Regions from separate parts of the Homo sapiens genome. Here region 1 is linked to region 2. A link means that fine-mapping ties the variant in region 2 to the expression of a gene that starts in the linked region. Tissue or cell type: spleen. Region 2 holds a variant in brackets; the other region holds the start of a gene. All regions are shown on one strand. Distances are from middle to middle.

What was found. PIP is the estimated chance that this variant, and not a neighbour inherited with it, causes the effect.
Region 1: EPHX1 starts here. The variant in region 2 is fine-mapped to the expression of EPHX1 in spleen (GTEx, PIP 0.98).

What each region holds. Positions count from the first base shown.
Region 1 is chr1:225,808,675-225,811,356 of GRCh38, reverse strand. It overlaps EPHX1 (epoxide hydrolase 1), which reads right to left and starts at 1,233. Exons shown (of 9, transcript NM_001136018.4): 1 at 1,188-1,233. RefSeq lists a silencer at 1,056-1,275.
Region 2 is chr1:225,773,879-225,776,560 of GRCh38, reverse strand. No RefSeq gene overlaps it. Among named protein-coding and RNA genes, the nearest start is that of SRP9, 2.6 kb to the left of the region's middle. The variant G/A (reference allele first, on the strand shown) is at 1,573.

The DNA.
Region 1 (2,682 bases), 35 kb before region 2:
TTAAACAATGGGAGGTGGGCTATGGAGGGGGCATTCAACTTTAAGAAAAAAAAGTCAAAATTAGGATTACAACATTGCTAGGCACCCCACCTCCAAGATCTCGGGAGCCGCCAGGGCAAGGAAGGAGCCAGAAGCTCAGAGAAAACCGACATCTGCCAGGGAGGGAGGCAGGCGGCCACTCGGTCTCCGCGGCGCTTTTGCTCAGGTTGACCACATTCCCTGGCTTCAACTACAAGGTGAACTCCCGGGCAAGTTTCCTGTTCTACAAGAGGAGAGGGCTGGCCTTCAATCCCGAGACCAGAGCGAGGGGGTGCCGGGCGGCGGCTGCGGCAGCAGATGGAGATGAAAGCGCATTTCAACTAAAAGGTGTGATCAGTGTCAGGCCTCTGAGCCGAAGCTAAGCCATCATATCCCCTGTGGCCTGCACCTACACATCCAGATGGCCGGTTCCTGCCTTAACTGATGTCATTCCACCACAAAAGTGAAAATGACCTGTTCCTGCCTTAACTGATGACATTGTCTTGTGAAATTCCTTCTCCTGGCTCATCCTGGCTCAAAAGCTCCCCTACTGAGCACCTTGTGACCCCCCCCACTCTGCCCGCCAGAGAACCCCCCTTTGACTGTAATTTTCCTTTACCTACCCAAATCCTATAAAACGGCCCCACCCCTATCTCCCTTGGCTGACTCTTTTCGGACTCAGCCCGCCTGCACCCAGGTGAAATAAACAGCCATGTTGCTCACACAAAGCCTGTTTGGTGGTCTCTTCACACGGACGCGCATGAAAATCAGTGTTCCGACTTGGGTGACAAATTAAGTGCATTTCACCGCCGAGCGAGCCACGGCCCTGGAAGCAGAGCTCGCCCAGGCCAGGGGACGCGGTGCGCTCTCGGGGTCGCGAGCCTCCCTCCCTGCGGCGTCCGCCCACAGTCTGGGACGCGGAATTCCCTGCGAGAAGTCCGCGGTCGCCTGCAGGCTCCTTCCCCCAGTAGGCGGCACGCGCAGTCTCCTGGCCGGGGCAGGAGCTGGGGGCGGACCAACTACAAGTCCCTCTGCACCCCTGCGGGCCGACCGCAGCCCCGACCCCTCGGCGCCCCGGCCCGCCGCCCACCCCGGCGGCCGAGCCCGCGCGGAGCCCGAACCGCGTCTGCGTCCGGGGAGTGCGGGCCCGGCCGGCCCCGGGCGCTTACGGTCTCGGCTCGCAGGCTCCGGCGGCGGCAGGCGCGCGATCTCTCCGGCTCCCTGGCTCTCCTCGGCTAGTTTTCAGCAGCCCCGGCGCAGTCTCCGCCCAAGCCCGGCCTCCGAGCGGGGCGTTCCCCGGCCTGGAGGACCCGGGAAAGTCTCTAGGCCTGCCTAAGGCTCCACCTCTGCCAGGGATAAAACGGGCTACTTAAAGGGCGGTCCGCGGCCCCGCGGCCAGAAATGGAGAGAAGCGTTTGGCAGCTCCTACAGCAGTTTGATCCCGTAACTTCGTCAGTTGAATCTAAAAACAAAAATCCAAACTTGCATGATGTATGTCCTTTTTTTTTTTGGAGACAGAGTCTCACTCTATCACCCAGGCTGGAGTGCAGTGGTGCGATCTCGGCTCACTGCAGCCTCAAGCGATCCTCCCACTTCGGCCTCCAGAATAGCTGGGACTACAGACTGCGCCACCACACCTGGCTAATTTTTTAAGTTTTGTAGATACGGGGGTCTCACTTTGTTGCCTAGGCTGATCTTGAACTCCTGGGCTCAAGCGATGCACCTACCTCCGCCTCCCAAAGTGGTGAGATTATGGGCGTGAGCCACTGCACCTGGCGGTGTATGTCTTTTTAATTTCATCTTTCTAGCAATTCATTCTTAGTATATTTAACAAACATATTGGTCCGTGACATGCTTGGAAATCTAAAAACAAATTAGTGTCTTTATACAGAGAATGTGAGAAGCAATGGTCTGAAGCACTCTTGGGGGTCTTCATGGTGAGGACCAGTATAGGATGCTGAGTTCAATGCCAGGGGAGCAACCTCTTAGTGAATCCCCTCCCGCTTTGGAGAGAGCTCAGGGCCCAGGCGGGTGGTTGCTGGGGCTCTTTTAGCTTCCGTGAGAGCGTTGATCCCCAGCCCCTCATCGTTAGAAAGCCTGTCCCATCGCCTCTGCCATCACCCCTCCTTAGCTTCTCTCTTCACCTGCTCAGAGGTGCAGTTCTTTCAACCACCAGCATCCTCACGATCTCGGTGGACAGACTACAGCTAGGAGGCCACATGCAGGGCCCGTGGCTGGAGTTCTAAGCTTCTGACTGTCACCTTGCACACTTCAGGATAAGGTTCACCACCACCCACCTTCCCTTGGCCTCCAACCTTTCTGCTCACCCTGGCCCAAGAATTCTGGCCGGCAGACGCACTCACCTCACTCCCACCTCCAAACTTTTGCTCTTGCAGTACTGCCGGACAGGGTGCCCTCCTCCATCCACATGTAGAGTCCTCTTGTCCTTTAATTCTACACCCTCCTATAAAAGCTTTCTCTTGCAACTGCAGTCTCTGACATCTCTGTATTCCTTTCAGAACCTGCAGTCTGGGAGAGTTCTTTCCCCTCCCCTCCAAATAGTTCACACAGAAGCTCTGCCTCTGGCCACTTCACCAGGGGACCCAAATTCGTTACTCTTAAAACTGCAGTGATGGTGAAACAGGTAGGAGTCAGGACTTAACG
Region 2 (2,682 bases):
GTCGTGGGTGCCTGTAATCCCAGCTACTCTACTCGGGAGGCTGAGGTAGGAGAATCTCTTGAACCCAGGAGATGGAGGATGTAGTGAGCCAAGATCGCATATCACTGCACTCCAGCCTGGGCAACAGAGCAAGACTCTGTCTCTAAAACAACAACAACAACAACAACAAAAAAAGAAACTCAAAAGCAATATGTCAAGTAGAGTAAAAAGCTGAAACTGGAGATCATATCTGGGAATAGCCCCAATTAGGGTCTGTCTCCAGCAACACCCAGAAGCTTGGATTTTGGACTGGAAAAGACAGATATTAGGGATTTATAGGGTACATGAGGAAGAAGAACAAAGGGTCAAGAATGTTGTAGGTGGTACTGGCAAGAGAATGATTGAAATGATAAATTATGGGATCCATGCTAGATAGCTGGTAATTAATTGAGTCAAAAGAGAGAAGTTAAGGAACCAGGATTAAAGGAAATCTGAATTCAATATAGCAGGAAATAAGTTTTAGTCAGATTGGATATTGGGGTTTAACATTTTAGAGTAGCAATAGTCCCTGGTGAGGCTGGATTTATAGTTGGGTTGTCCACACAAAGTCAAAGTCTTCTATGAGTAAGAAAAGGAATAAGATGAAGGAGAAGGCTATGAGCCAGGGACCCAAATCCTCATTTAATGAGACACGTGTGTGTGTGTGTGTGTGTGTGTGTGTGTGTTGAGGGAAGCTATAAAGAGCAATGAGCAGAGGCAGAGAGGGCAGAGTTGGGCAGAATGACCCCCAGGTGTAGGGGTTTTTCCCTGAAGATGAAAACAATGGAAGTTAAGACAATGCCAACTTTGCCTTCTGTCACAAGGAACATAAGAGATCAGTTTCAATTCAATTCAGCAAAAAGTAAAACAAGTGTCCACCCTGGACAAACACCAGGAGCTGGGCTAGGCATTAGAGACCCAGCAGTGAACAAGACAGGCCCAGTCCCTGCCTCATAGAGCTCACAGTTATGGAGAGAATGACAGTAAAGAACAGATCTCCATTGTGAGGGTCCCCATCACTGTGAGTTCCAGCATCTCCAAGCTTAGCCCAGCCTCAGCCCCTACAGAGGCAGAGAAATCAAGATAAGGAAGAAGTTATGGGAATTGCCCTTGATTATGCAAATGTCCCCAGTCACACTAGGATGCATTCTTTTTTTAAAAATTTAATTTTAGGTTCGGGGGTACATGTGCATGTTTGTTACATGGGTATATTGCATACTGGTGGGCATTAGGTTTCTAGTGTACCCATCACCCAAATAGTGAGCATTGTACCCAATTGGTACCTTTTTAACCCTTTCCATCTTCCCACCCTCCCCCTTTTGGAGTCACCAGTGTCCATTATTTCCATCTTTATGTTGATGTGTACCCGTATTCGTCCATTCTCATACTGTTATAAAGAACTACCTGAGACTGGGTAATTTATGAAGAAAAGAGGTTTAATTGAACTCACAGTTCTGCAGGCTGTACAGGAGGCATGACTGGGGAGGCCTCAGGAAACTTAACAATCCTGGCAGAAGGGCCAAATCAAGTGCTTGGAAGCCAGCACTTCTTCAC[G/A]TGGCAGCAGGAGAGAGAGAGAGAGAAGGGGGAAGTGCTACACAATTTTAAACAACTAGATCTTGTGAGAACTCACTCACTATCACAAGAACAGCAAGGGGGAAATCCACCCCCATGATCCAATCACCTCCCACCAGGTCCCTCCCCCAACACTGGGAATTAGAGTTCAACATGAGATTTGGGTGGGGACACAGAGCCAAGCCACATGAGTGCCCATTGTTTAGCTCCCACTTATAAGTGAGAGCATGCTGTATCTGGTTTTCTGTTTCTACGTTCGTTGACAGGATAATGGCCTTCAGCTCTATCCATGTTGCTACAAAGGACATGATTTCATTCTTTTTTTTTTTTTATGGCTGCTGGATGCATCCTTTAAACTAGGTTATTCCTTTCCTGCTGTGGCTTCTGAAAGGCTATCAGAGAGTGTCCTTTATAAATTGCTCACACATGCACAATGTCAGAAAAGGAAAAATTCCTTTCATTCCCAGTCAAGAAGATCAGGGCCTCTGTACCCTTTGTGGTTATCCTTTCTGCTTCATTTTCACACACATATCTTATTTGAGCTTTCAAACAACTCTGCCAGGGTGGTCAGTGAGCCTTATTACAATTCCAAAAATCTGAAAAGCTCTGGAAAACAAAAGTATCTTGGTAACTCCATTAGTAGAAAATGACCTGACCTCAAGTAAGGTTGCTTAGTCTTTATTTGTTTCACTTGGTGTGTTTGGTTCCAGGGTGGGGCACAGACCCTGCTGGTGGTATTATGTAATATACCACATGTGCACTGTATCACCTTTCTAGGATCCAAAAGGCTGTGAATTCTGAAATACGGGTGGCCTCAAGGATTTCGGACAAGGGATTATAGTCCTGTGCCACTCTCCTTTACAGGTGATGAAGAAACCAAACCTGAAAAATAAGTGACACTAAACAGATTGGCCCCAGACTTTGCTCCGGATTGTCCAGCAAATGGCAAAAGCCAGTGGATGTTAATCATAACCGGAAGTGACAGGATTAATTTTGATTTTTAGAAAGTGTAACTAGTAGAAATACAGAAGCTAGATCGGTAAAGCAGAGCCTGGGTGCAGGGTCAAAACCAAAAGCCCTTGCACTTTTCCT